Linked DNA regions of Homo sapiens: region 1 is linked to region 2. The links come from fine-mapping of genetic effects on gene expression. Tissue or cell type: monocytes. Region 2 holds a variant in brackets; the other region holds the start of a gene. All regions are shown on one strand. Distances are between the middles of the regions.

Region 1 (7,373 bases), 54 kb after region 2:
GTTACAGATGTGCACCACCACACCGTGCTTTTTTTTTTAAACAGAGTCTTGCTCTGTCGCCAGGCAGGAGTGCAGTGGCACGATCTCAGTTCACTGAAACATCTGCCTCCCAGGTTCAAGCGATTCTCCTGCCTCAGCCTCCTGAGTAGCTGGGACTACAGGTGCACGCCACCACGCCCAGCTAATTTTTGTATTTTTAATAGAGATGGGGTTTCACATGTTGGCCAGGATGGTCTCAATCTCTTGACCTCGTGATCTTTGTGATCTGCCTGCCTTGGCCTCCCAAAGTGCTGGGATTACAGGCATGAGCCACCTTGCCTGGCCATTTTTTGTTTTGTTTTGTTTTGGTTTTTTTTGAGACAGTCCCACTCTGTCACCCAGGCTGGGGTTCAGTGGCACAATCTTGGCTCACTGCAACTTCTGCCTCCCAGGTTCAAGCAATTCTCCTGCCTCAGCCTCCCAAGTAGCTGGGATTACAGGTGAGTGCCACCACACCTGGCTAATTTTTGTATTTTTAGTAGAGGCAAGGTTTTGCCATGTTGGCCAGGCTGGTCTCGAACTCCTGACCTCAAGTGATCCGCCCACCTCGGCCTCCCAAAGTGCTGTGATTACAGGTGTGAGCCACCACACCTGGTTGAGCCTACCCTTTCTGCATAGTCTGTCACTATGCTAAATTCAAGTTGTCCACATATTACACTACCAATAAAAAGACCATAAAGACAAAACTGTGTTTGCATTTATGAATGAATCATACAGTTTTCCATTACATTTACTTGGTGAGAAAACTAGCTCAATTTGATTAACCAGATCAAATAGAAGTCAGAACAGCCCTGTGTGACAACCAAAGAGTATCATGCTCCTATCAAGTTGCCTGGACAATTCACCATCATTCTATAATTCAAAAGCCTTTTAAAAATGCATATTCGCTGACCAGGCATTTCCATGGCTAGTAATTTATGCTAAGGAAACGGTTGAAGACGTATGTGAAATAAATTTCAATGAAAAAAACTGTAAACATTCTTAGTGACCAAAGATAAGCAATTAGTTAAATTATGATTCAGCCATACAATTACATGCCATGCAGACATTAAAAATATTTTATATAGAAGACATTAATAACATTGTGTGAAGAACATTACAAAATAGAATTATGAACCTATTTCATTATTTATCTAGCATGCCTTTGTAGATACATGTGCATGATACACATGTGCAAATGTATGAATGCACATGTCTGAGAACAAGATACACATGGACACGTGCAAAAGTATGTGCAAGTATGATCGGGGCTCATAAAACTGCACACAAATGTACAAAGATATGTCTGTATACGTATATATGGGTACATAAGAGAATACATATGCATGTGTATATATCTGCTAATGCATACACCTATATCTGGACTGTGAGCCTGTGTTTTAAGTAGGTGAGTGTGTGTATATCCTTATAATCACTACTTAGCAGCCTGTGACCTTGAGGCAAGTTACTGAGCCACTTTGAGTCTTTGACAATGAGAACAAACCCTGGTTCATAAGGGTTTGGTATGAATTAAAAGAAAAAAAAAATGGATGTAAATTACTTAATACTGTGATTGTTGCATAAAAAAATCAATATTAGCTTTCCTGCATTCCTTATCTGTACACACATATACTGATCTATAACTATGTATATTTACATAGCTATAAACCCACAAGAATGCACATTAAAATATTACCTTTGGTTATCTATTTGGTTTTTGTTTAGGGAGGGTTTTGCAGTTTTTTGGGCTTTCATCTTTTACAATTTTTCTAGGAAGATTTTTTTCTCTTTTTTTTATACTTCAATTCTGCATAATTAAAAAATATTAAATGCCACACTAAGGAATACATGATTTTGATACTCCAGCAAATTTTTTATATTCTAGCAGTATGTCAGCATTACCTAATAGCTCAAGAAGATGGCAGTACAAAGAAAAACCACAGCTCTTTTGCTCGTTAGCCTTATCCAAGTCAGGATGAAAAGGATGAAATCAGATGACAGTATACAGTAGGGGTGATTTGCAAACACTGTGGTGACAGTTAAGTGGCATCTGTTATTCCCATTTTATTAAAGCAGTAAGGAACCCGCAGGCTGCCCAAGGTCATAGAAAAAAAGCATGTGCTAGATCCATGTGCTCTGAAGAGATCTAAGGATTAACTGCATTGCCACAATTTGGGCCGTGTTTATAAAACCAAGAAGTGAAATTCTTAACTAGTCATTTTGGGAGTCCAAGCCTGAGTGGGGACGGATTGCAACACATGGCTGATGATAGCAAAACAAACCAGTAACCGGCCGGCCGCACCAGGGTTAATCTACGTTTTCATCGTACTGGCTGGCTTTCCTTACTTCTAAAATATAAAATTGTAGATCGTCTAAGATAGGACATTTTATTTGATAAAAGGAGGATTGACATCTGTATGCACCGAAAGCATCTGAAACATGACAAACACAAGCCGTTATTTGCGGTTCCAATCAACATCAGTTTACCACCTGGCTCAATTCCCACCATTACTGTATGTTAGATTAACACTTCCAAAAACCCTGCAGAAGGTCTCTAAATTTCCTGGGGGAACTTAGCTACAGACGCGGAGTGAAACAAGCAGCTCTTTTCCCTGGGGCCTCAATGTATTAAATCAAACCCGAGAAAATGATCCAATCATTTCCTATACATTTCCTCCCCAGCTATGCCATCAAATCTCTTAAAACGTCACTTCCAAGCATTTAAAATACACCCGGCACACGCCCTGCAGACTTCATCGTAGCTCTCCCTTTTGGGGCATCACCACAGCCAAACATCGCCTCTTCCAAATCTACTGCAAACTGCGGGCTTGTCTCTTGCTTCATTTTTTACTTTTGTCTTAAAACGGAGGCGAGGGGGATGGGTTTCGACAAACTAGGCTCTGAAACCCTGAGCAATAGCATCTTGCTGTGGGGAGCTATCGGCAGCAGCAGAGATTTTAATCTTTTCTCTCCACCCAGTTTCCGTTTCATGCTTTTTTCTTTCTTTCTTTTCCAATGACATCAAACCAAAGGTGGAAAAATGAAAAACGAATGCCTCAGATCGATGCCGCCTGTGGGTCGCGGGTTCTGACTCAGGGACCCGCCCGCCCTGGGAAATGCGGGAAACGAGGCCGGGAGGAGGACTTTCCACCGCCGGAGTCCCACCTGGGGTCGCAGACGGGCAGGCCGGGCCCGTGGCAGCCTCGAATCCGAGCCCGGGGCCCGACCCGCCCCTCCAGGCCCAGCGCGGCCTGCCAAGCCCCGGCGTCGAGTTGGCCGCGGGCCGGCCAGAGAGGCCTGAGGCGGCCAGCGGGCAGGGCAGAGCCAGGGACCGGAGTTCGGGGCTGGAGTCGGGCGCCGCTTACCTGCTGGTACCGGCTGCCGCAGGCCGGCTCGACCGCCGCCAGCGCCGCCAACGCCAACGCCATGGCGCAGCCGGCAGCAGGGAAGCAGAGCGAGCGAGCGAGCTAGCTGAAGGGGCGCGGCCGCTGCGGCTTGGGAGCGCTGGGAGGCCGAGGGGGACGCGCCTTGGGTGGGTCTCGATGGCCGCCGCCGCTCCCGGGCGAGACGCTCTTCTCAGGCTGTAAGCACCGCCGCCGCCGCCGAGGCTCCGACGCGGCCCCTGGGGAAGAGGCGGGGACTACGACGACGGCGCTGCGCCGCCGCCCCACCCCCGACTCGCGCCGCCCTGCCCGGCCCGGCCCGGCCTAGCCTAGTCCTGCGCCGCCGCCCCGAGGTGCACCGGCCCTGGTGTAGTTGCTCCGACGACCTGAGCCTCCGAGGCTCAAGTGTTGTATTCGATTCCACTAAAAACGAATTACTAACAGGCCAGCCCAAAGCAAGGGCGATGCTGCTGATGAGCACCTCGTGCCAAGCACTGAGCTTCACCTACGTGCCCTCATCCAGCCTTCAGCACAACCGCCCTGACGCAGGGACCACAACCCCATTCTCGAGGTCGTTGGCAACCAGAGAGGTTGACAATCTTCACAGCAGCGACCTGATCCCTCGTGTCTGGCAGCAGAATCGTGGTTCTTATTCACTCCCTTCTTTTATCTGCCGTACTCATAAACCAGGGGTCAGCCAGCGACAGGGAGGGGGCCAAATCCGGTCTGCCACCATGACTGTGAAAAGTACATGAAATTCAAGTTTCAGTGTCCATAAATAAAGTTTTATTGGAACACAGCAGCACCCATTTGTTTGGTATGGCCTGCAAACCCTATAATACTTGCTATCTGACATTTTACAGAAAAAGTTTGCTAACCCTAAATCCTTGAGAACTGCTTGGATCTCAAATCCTACTTAGGGTGGATGATTATAATAGCATCCTCATGTTTATGCCATCCTTTAGTATTTTAACAGCCTCATCTGCGGAATCGGAAACAATATTTTCCAAAAAAGCTCCCTGACTCGGTGACATGAAGTCAAAACTTGAAGGGTTTGGCCATGCTAAAGGCTTTCCCGACCACAGGAACAGGTGCAAAGGGCGGTCCAGAGAGAGATTGTCTTGTGGAAGAACAGAAAGGAGGCTGGCATAGCTGCCATATAGGAGATACAATTATCAGTGTTTCACAGATGAGGAAGTTATGCCCAAAGAAATTAAATATCTCACCCAATGACACAGAGCTACTAAGGGGTGAAGCTGGAATACAACTCCATTAAGCCAGCTTTCTTACCCAGTATTGCACAACTAAATTATAAGCTTTGTGAAGACAAGAGTATTTGTCTTTTAAATCTTATTACCTCCCAATGCCATGTAGCACAGTATAGCTATATAGCAGGCTTGCAAGGTCTGTTTCTTTCACACCCAGCCATCTGCAATTGCTTCTACCCACATGTCCTACAGAGAAAAACAAAATCTTCCATCTCTGAAGCTTGTTGCAATTCCCATTTCTTCTTCATTGCCTTTCCAAGTTGGCAGTGTAGAGGTTATATTAATATGATTATTGTCTTAGCTTCTAATTTTGAAGTTTAGTTAATTATGTATTTTAAAAGAGAACTGTGTTTAGAACACACCCTGAGGTTTCTGTATATATGAGAAAATTGTAATCAATAAAAACTCTAGATGTTTACCATCTTCACTTTGAGTTCTCTCTCAGCATCCAAACTCCTCTATATCTGTCGCTATTTCCAAGTATTAGTCTCACATATTAACATGCTGGGAGAGCGAACAAATGTAGCAACATTCCAAGCTCTCAAGTCTATTTAGAGCCTCCTTACTCTGTCCCTCAGTTGTTGTTTATAATCCAGAAAAACAACATTTAAATGTAATCAGGTACAGTGAATCAAACATAATGTCCTGCCATGTAGTCTTGTATAAAGGGTGCAAAAATCTAATTTGAAATTTTTTAAAATGTCAGCAGTGGAAAGTAGAAATCCAGACTTCTTTGTCCAGATTGTCTACATTTACGTGTAAGAAAGAATAAAAAAGAATGTCCACTGGGCACAGTGGCTCACATCTGTAATCTCAGCACTTTGAGAGCCTGAGACTCGAGGATCACGTGAGCCCAGGAGCCAGGAGTTCGAGACCAACCTGGGCAACATAGTGAGACACAATCTCTGAAAAAAAAAAAGAAAAAGAAAAAAGAATTTGTCGGCCTACCACATAAGGCTATTGGAGCAACAACTGCAATCTTTATGCATGTCTGCAGTGCTGTGGCTTTTGTGGAAAAGATGTTGCTACCCTTCTATTTCTTTCCTAAATTACTTTCTCCCTCAATATCTATATACTCCCTGCATGTGGACACAAATATTTATCATAATATAAATAACAGGCTTTATCATAGAAATATTTTGCATTGAAAGTAAAAGAAAATTGATCTCCAACTTCTAATCTCCTTTTCCTATGTCCTCAACCAAAATGTTTTGTAGTCACGGTAAAGATTTTGGTCTTTTTTTTCTTGAGTTCCCCAAAGCCTCTAATAAGTAAATTGAGATTATTTGCCTTGATTTGATGGGTGGATAAATTGGAGAATTGAGAAATTGAGTCACTGCTATATTAGGCCTCCAGCTGGCAGGCAAATTGTACAACGAAGGGGAAAACTGAATTTCTGGCTCACAGATCCATGCCTGGTGCAAGCCAAGCAGACAGAGAAGATAATCCAAAGCCATAAAAATTGTGCTCTTTGGCTTCATCTCGAGATGTTGTCAAGAGAGTTTCCACAGAGAAAGTTATTAATTTCAGATTGCTGCACTTAGAAACTTATTTCCCCACAGAATAACAGTAATACTTTCCATGTGCAGTACTGCATATGTGAATTGCTGACTCTGAATCATCCCTCCTGAGAGAGAAAAGAAACATGGACAAGTATAAGCATAACTCATGTCCGTATCCCTTTCCCCCTGCAATATAGATACAAATCTCTAGGATAAATGTGACCTTCTGTCTTTCATATCCACATGAGGCTTGACCTAGGTAGTGCAGAGCTCAGTAAGTAACCAAGAAGGGTTTGTTAAATGTGTTAAATTTAGACAAAAGCCTCATTAGTCTAATATCTCATTTGAGGCCTTGAACTTCTCCAGCTAGTCTTCACAGGGCTCCAATTAAACCATGAAGTTTTATTTCTATGACTTACTACTTCTTTTAATTCTCACTACATTACCACAAGGTTCATTAAGAGCAAAAGGTAATATCTTCATATTACAAATAAAGAAATTATCCACTGATAATTACTACTGTTATGGAGCACTTCCAGAATCTTGGACCTGATGGTACATCATCTGCTTAATCTTCATAACAAACCCATTCTGCAGATTCTTGAAGAGACTCAGGAAATTTACATAACCTACTCAGCTTTGTGAGCGGTGGAGTCGAAACGCAAACTGGGATTTGTCTGGCTCCAAAATGTATGCACTGCTTTGGGTGTGGAGAGAAATACGGGACATAAATAGACAGGAGATAGAAAGTTCTAACCTTTGGAGTCTTCATGATGAAATAGAGATGATAGTAAACACTTATTTGAGACATTTTTAAAATATAAAACTTACAAGTTATTTACAACTGTGTTGAGCTATATTAACTAATGCTGAGAGATAGTGAAGAGAATTATGTGGCCAGCTGGGATAATCAGGTAAGGATTGGGAAGAAAGGGTTTTGAACGAGAAAAGGGCTTTGTTGGCCAGGTGTGGTGGCTCACGCCTGTAATCCCAGCACTTTGGGAGGCCGAGGCGGGAGGATCACCTGAGGTTGGGAGTTGGAGACCAGCCTGACCATCATGGAGAAACCCCATCTCTACTAAAAATACAAAAAACTTAGCCGGGCGTGGTGGTACATGCCTGTAATCCCAGCTACTTGGGAGGCTAAGGCAGGAGAATCACTTGAACCTGAGAGGCGGAGGTTGCAGTGAGCCGAGATCGCG
Region 2 (7,373 bases):
GGGCCCCCCCGACACCCTCATCCCCAGTAACTGGCTTGTTCTCCCTGCCCTGGCTCAGCGTAGTACAGCCCAACCTTGCAATTTAACTCAGTGCTGATGGAGTTGGGTAAACTGAAGTGCCTAGCAAATGTACGTGGAAAACCATGGTCCCTGATAAGCTGCTGATACGGTGTGCTTGTGCTTCCGCCAGTTCTATTTAAACACTGATAGGCCCTTGGGCAAACAAGAAGCCTTTTGTGCTCTGAGCATCCACAACTGCCATCCTGAGCCCAATCTGGACATGAGCAAGCCTCACAGTGGGTGGAAGTGAGGGTGGGGAAGAGACAAACTTTTCCTGCATTTTATCAGATACATGCACACAGGCAAGACCAAGCTGATCTTCAAACCTGGGGGCCCCAATCTTTCCCCACACTCCCTACCCTACCTCACAGTGATCTCTTAACAATGGAGATTTAGAAAAATTTTTCTTTTTCTTTTTTTTTTTTTTTTGAGTCGGAGTCTGGCTCTGTCGCCCAGGCTGGAGTGCAGTGGCACAATCTCGGCTCACTGCAAGCTCTGCCTGCCGGGTTCAGGCCATTCTTCTGCTTCAGCATCCTGAGTAGCTGGGACTACAGGCTCCCGCCACTACGCCCGGCTAATTTTTTTTGTATTTTTAGTAGAGACGGGGTTTCACCGTGTTAGCCAGGATGGTCTTGATCTCCTGACCTCGTGATCCACCCACCTCTGCCTCCCAAAGTGCTGGGATTACAGGCGTGAGCCACCGCGCCCGGCCTAGAAAAAATTTTCTAGAAAATGCACTGTAGTGTTTGTAAAGTTCTACTTTTTTTTTTTTTTTTTTGAGATGGAGTCTCACTTTGGAGTGCAGCAGTGTGATCTCTACTCACTGCGAACTCTACCTCCTGGGTTCAAGTTTCTCCTGCCTGAGCTTCCCAAGTAGCTGGGACTACAAACGTGTGCCACCATGCCCAACTAATTTTTGTATTTTTAGTAGAGATGGGGTTTCACCATGTTGGCCGGGCTGGTTTCGAACTCCTGACCTCAGGTGATCTGCCCACCTCGGCCTCCCAAAGTGCTGGGATTACAGATGTGAGCCATCAGGCCCAGGCTGTAAAGTTGTACTTTTGAATTTAATTTTTTTTTCTTGAATATTAATGTGGATTAGAGACTTGCTCATGAAAATTTGATTCTGGCCAGGCAGTTTGGTCATCACCTGGGAAGTTTTTACAAATGCAGAATCACAAGCCCCAGCCTAGACCTCCTAAACTATTACCTGCATTTTATTAAGCTTCCCAGGTAGTTTGTAGGCATATTAAAGTGTGAGAAGGACTAGATTCGAGCATTTATGTATAAGGCTACTAGAAAGGTATATTGATAACAGTAAATGATTATAGCTTCCTTTCAGATTTGCAACAGATTTTGATCTAAATATTGAGTATAAAAAATAAAAGTTAAATTTAAAGGATGAGACTGATAACAATCATAACTTCTCAAATCTAAATGAATATTTCCTGCAGATAAGTCAATATATATGACCTCAACTGGGCAGCTTTACTCACTCTTCTCTAACATAAAGACACGCTCTTCCCATGAAGGTTCACATCTGTATACATTACAATTGCTGGCATTTTAAGAGGCTAATGAAACACTCTATTTTGCGCTATTGACAGAAGGCAGATTTCTAAAAATCAGAGTTAAGATGTTCCATAATAAACACGGGTTAACTTTGTAAAATAAAAAGGGGTGGGGGCAGGGATGATGGTAGGGGGAGAAGTATTGGTTAGTGGTCAAGAATGCCTTGATTTGGATTCTTGCTCCGTCCACCGGGTGACCTGACCTCTCTGGGAGCCAGCTCCTTTAGTGTAAAATAGGGATAATAGCGCTGTTGCTGTTCAATTCTGGAGGGTTAAAAGATTCTGCGTGAAAAGGACTGTAGCAGCACTTGAACACAATAAATGTTGAATAAATGTAAGCTATTAATATGAAATTAGAATTGAAATCCTGTCTCGAGATACCATTTTGCTTAATTGAGAGAACTTGTCATGTCTCTGTCCAGCACTTGATCTGACTCTTAGCTAGAAAGGTTCATACTATCAGCTGTGCCTATCTCACTGGCTTAGAGAAAGGATAAAAAAAAACCCTGCAGTACAAGCTGGGGGTGGCGGTGGGGGCACTGAAGCCACGCTCCAGGTGAGGTGGGGAGGCACACTGATGGAGGGGTATGAGCCCACTTCATGGGGAACATGCACAAAGAAGAAAACATCTCAGGCTGCTGTGGGAGGGCAGATGTCCTGTGCCTGCAGTCCAGAATCCCCCTCATTCCCACCTTCAATAAAGGGAATCCTGTGGGAAGAGAAAGGAATGTGTTAAAGTGTAGATCAAGAAGGGACAGGAGAATAAAAAGAAATGGAAGCAGGTGCACACACAGGAAAGATGATGAGTGTTCTATTGTTGTTAAAGAGTTCATGCTCTAACAACACAAACCAAATTAATCCCAGCCTCCCCACTTAAGGACGGTAAGGGGCAAGTCAGTTAACATGAGTCTCCATTTTTTTAAAAATATACAACAAGGATCACAGTATTCCCTACCTCAAAGGGTTGGGGAGATGATTAAATCTACCTGTGAAGAAGAAAGCAGAGTACTTCGCACATGATAAATGCTCAATAAATGGTATTCATTACTATCCATCTATGATACGCATCTGCAACACAAAAATACACATGTTTACTGTAGGTTTAATCCCAGGGTCAAGGAATTTGATGTGAACTTCCAATCAACAGAGAAACCAGGTCTCTTCTGGATGCCCTATGGATGAAAGAAGACCAAGGGTATAGGACGCCTTTGTCATAATTGTTGCAACAGTCTAATTATTCCTCTTGGCAATGAAGCAATGGAAAAAAGAGGTATTAGAAGTTGGCTTTAAAAACACCATCATCGGCTGGGCGCGGTGGCTCAAGCCTGTAATCCTAGCACTTTGGGACGCCGAGGCGGGCGGATCACGAGGTCAGGAGATTGAGACCACGGTGAAACCCCGTCTCTACTAAAAATACAAAAAATTAGCCGAGTGTGGTAGCGGGCGCCTGTAGTCCCAGCTACTCAGGAGGCTGAGGCAGGAGAATGGCGTGAACTCGGGAGGCGGAGCTTGCAGTGAGCCGAGATTGCGCCACTGCACTCCAGCCTGGACGACAGAGCGAAACTCCTTCTCAAAAAAAAAAAAAAAAAAAATCATCGAGGCCAGTTGTGGTGGCTCACACCTGTAATCCCAGCACTTGGGGAGGCCGAGGAGGGCGGATCGCTTGAGGTCAGGAGTTCGAGACCAACCTGGCCAAAATGGTGAAGCTCCGTCTCTACTAAACATATAAAAATTAGCCGAGTGTGGTGACGGGCGCCTATAATCCCAGCTACACGGGAGACTGAGGCAGAAGAATCACTTGAACCAGGGAAGTGGAGGTTGCAGTGAGCCGAGAAGGCACCATTGCATTCCAGCCTGGGCAACAAGAGTGAAACTCAGTCTCAAAAAACAAAAACAAAAACATCATGGGGCATTTGTCAGAACGAGCTGAAAAGCAGAAAAAGACAAGATAATCTACACTGCAGCAAAGACTATTTAAAAAATTTAACATCTGATATAAACAGAATGGCTTAAGAGACCTCATCTCACTGGGCTGTGCCAGTATGCTAGTACTACCTATGTAAAAATAATAAATTCACAAAAACAAGTCTGAAAAAGAACAAACAGTTGATTTTTGGAGATAGTAGGCTTAGAAAGTGACTTTTTAGATGTGCTCATAAGTTTTGCAAAATCAGGGCATTTTGAAACCCCTGTAAGATTGACGGAGGAAAAAAAATGTATAACGGTCTAACAGTTTTAGGCAAAGTAAGAGATGAGTGTTTACTTAGGGCAGTGGTTTTCAAGCCATTTTTTTTT[C/TC]AGCTGCAGAACCCTTTTTGTAAAACAAAATCTGAGATCCCAAATACTCTGAGTAAATTTATTTATATATTGTTTTAGTATTTGTTCATGTCTGTAAATGAGATCACAAATAACCACACAATTGAACACATATTTGAAAATACATCTTATTACATGATTAAGGCTGTTTTTAAAAGATAAAATTCCAATTAAAAGTTTATAGAATCCTAGTGTTTTGTGGAAGGTAATTCAGAAGCATCAGAAGGATTATGAAATTTGGGACTAGCCAGGTGCTTCTCCATGGAGGCCCGAGAGTTGTCATAGATTCATGCAGATGCCATTGGAGGTGATCTATATAGTGAGAGAGAACAAAGAGCAGAGGACACCCCAATGCTTTCTGTTTAATGGCCAAGCCAAACTAGTACTGAAGGGGCATGAAGAGGTGAGCCTGTGAACACTGTGACAAATGCCACCACTGTGAAAAGCTCCCCAGATCCCCCAATAAAGGGGAAAACAGGCAGGCCCTATCTGGGCAGGCTTGGATTGGCAGGACTGGGTTGGGGGGCACAGACACAGGCTGGAACCATCTATCCAGGGGCATACAGGAACGTTCCTTGGAGAGCTTCAGGAAGAGAAAGCAGGCATGTGGTTTTCTTGTTGGATGCGGCTAGATGGAATGGGAAGATAGAAAGCAACTAGGGTTAGGCCGGGCGCGGTAGCTCACGCCTGTAATCCTAGCACTTTGGGAGGCCAAGGCGGGCAGATCACCTGAGGTCAGGAGTTCGAGACCAGCCTCACCAACATGGTGAAACCCCCATCTCTACTAAAAATACAAAAGTTAGCCGGGCACGGTGGCAGGCGCCTGTAATCCCAGCTACTCGGGAGGCTGAGGCAGGAGAACCACGTGAACCCAGGAGTCGGAGGTTGCAGTGAGTCAAGATCACGCCATTGCACTCCAGCCTGGGGACAAGAGTGAGACTTCGTCTCAAAACAAACAAACCAAAAAACCAAAACAAAACAAAAAAAAGAAGTAACTAGGGTTCAAATGGCCCAGGGTTAAGATTTGGAGAAAGGAAAGGGAGAGCGGCCACTGAGAAAATGGCCCTATCTACAGTTGTGTAGGAATTTAGGACAGAGAAGTAACAAGAGTGATCTAAGCAGCACTGGAAACGTAGGGGAAGGGGGAGGTGTCGAGAGGGCGGCAAAGAAGACATGGAAAGGGCAGGGAAAAGAGCAGAGAATGTAAGGCCAGTGCAGAAAGAAACAAAGCAAAGGATAAGAAGTTCAAAGGCTGCTTCGAATACCTAAATCCATACAAAGATAGTATACGGCAAGTCTTGTAATGTAATACAAATGGACTAAGCAAAAAAGAGGCCAGAGTTTCAGCCTATAGAACTCAGGAAAGGAAATGAGAATCAAAGTTTATTGAATCTGTAGAGTGTTTTGATGTTAGTGAGTGTTGGAAAATTATTTGCCGGGGGAGGGAGGCTTTGGTTGCTTGGTGGTAAAGAACGCAAAATAATCCCTTTTATAGTAATCTGTGAAGATCAAATGAACATGTATATAAGTTCCCACATAAACATATGATAATATTACCAGAAAAGCAATAGTAAATCATATTCTCATCTGGGCTGCAGGAATTTAGGAGGATAAGAATGATCTGATTTATCAGGGATGGCCTAATGACATTTAGGAAAGAAGGAATGAGGAAAGGCAGGGTTTATGAGAGCTATACGGTCCTGAAAAGGAAATGAATTCCCTCGGTTTGAATTATAGGTTTGGGCTTTTCATGTCCTGCCCTTAGACCCAATACTATAGCTGATCAGCTGTGAAGAGCTGTTTGCTAGATGCTGGGCACTTTACCTCCCTAAAAATGGCCCTGTGAGAAAATATTCCAGCACACAGATTAGAAAACCAAAGCTTGGATAGGACATGCAAATGACCCAAGATTACACAGCCAGTAAATGGGGAGCGAGGGCTCAAGCCCTAGGCTAACAGTCACAAGTCCCCTTGGCAGCTGGTTTTCTAGGTCCTGGCCACATAGCACCCTGAGATGTTCCCCCATCCTTTTGGCCCTTTTGGGGGTGGCCTCTTCAAGTGGCAGTAATCTCTCCTTTGAGGGCATTTGGTTTTACGAACATCTTTAAAAGTGCCCTTCTGGTGAAAATTAAGTTAGCAGCAAGCTTGAAAAGTGTAAAAAGCTTCTTCCATCACTATGCAAACGAAGCAGAAAAACATTACATATTAAGATTTCTTGGACAGGAAAGCACTTTGTCTCCTACCAATCTCCTCCCAGACTAAAACCTCCTTGTGTTCAGGGGCTGTCTTGTACAAATCTTTGTATATACTACATCCAGCATAAAGTCATGTATGTCATAACTGGCTAATAAGATAGTTTTTATCAAATAAAGGCCCAAAGCAACTATATGCAAGAAGGCAGAGCACAATTATTTATAATACATAAAAACTGTATTTTTCAAAGTAGATCATCACTTCTAACACAGGTGATTATACAAATTCCATCTGCAATTCTTTCTGAGGGGAATAAACCACTATGGATGGAGGCAAAGCCAAGGACACATAGAATTTGAAGATGGAGGGAACGTTTTCTTGGCTTCTCTTCAGTTGTCTGATGTCACCAAAGAAGTGGGTTGGCTTGGATAAACTTATGACCTCTGTTTGGCCCTGTGTTCCTAAAAATTTTATGGGAAGGTCACTAATAAACTAAGTGTGTAAATGCTCCGCCATCTAGTTAAAAAATAATAACTGCTACTGGAGCTGACTTATACTACATATTTTCTGCAAAACACATTTACTTACCTTTCCTTCTAATAAAATACACCCAGCAATAAATAAAAGGCAGTAAAAAGTATCCATGGCTTGCTATTAAACTTGATATATGTTTAACAACAGGTTTTAGTATACTGTTTTTAGAAGGATCAGGTATTTGAAAATAAGCACCCAATGAGTACATGATTAAGATTGGCACCAAGGTACAAATATAATAATTTGTCCCAAGTACAGTGTCTGTACTCAGAGAATTTAAATGTCTACCCATGAAAGATCAGATTGCACTTTAAAATGGTCAATATACTGCTAGCAATGAGTCACTTGTATAAAAATGCCACTCTAAAGCACATTATAGTCTTTTTGGGGTTTTTTGTTTTTGTTTTTTCAAGTTTAAACTACAGTCTAGTGGATTTAGTTCTTCATGCTTTTGCCTAAGTGCTACAATGGCAGGGAAAGAGGCTTTGGAATTTCAGATTTTTTTTTCTTTCTTTTTTGTAAAGAAAACCTCTCAAGAGGGTATCCAACCACTTTTTGGAGACATAAACATATGTAAAGCAAAGTGACCCAAATAAAGGAAGAATTAAAAAAAAAATATATTTATTCTTCAATTTAGGCCAATTCTCTTTTACGGGCTCCTTGCAATTAGCTGGCAATCTTGTCCTGTGGGTCTGAAGGATT

Evidence for each region. PIP is the estimated chance that this variant, and not a neighbour inherited with it, causes the effect.
Region 1: NDFIP1 starts here. The variant in region 2 is fine-mapped to the expression of NDFIP1 in monocytes (TOPMed, PIP above 0.99). The same link has a PIP of 0.9 or more in whole blood.

Annotation. Positions count from the first base shown.
Region 1 is chr5:142,105,048-142,112,420 of GRCh38, reverse strand. NDFIP1 (Nedd4 family interacting protein 1) reads right to left here and starts at 3,642. Exons shown (of 8, transcript NM_030571.4): 1 at 3,384-3,642. The coding sequence starts at 3,446. RefSeq lists silencers at 3,213-3,282, 3,353-3,482, 3,543-3,812 and an enhancer at 3,390-3,891.
Region 2 is chr5:142,159,208-142,166,580 of GRCh38, reverse strand. All of the region lies in intron 2 of LOC107986455 (a long non-coding RNA gene), which reads left to right. LOC124901096 (a long non-coding RNA gene) reads right to left here and starts at 3,007. Exons shown (of 2, transcript XR_007058978.1): 1 at 2,618-3,007; 2 at 1-2,340. The variant C/TC (reference allele first, on the strand shown) is at 3,927.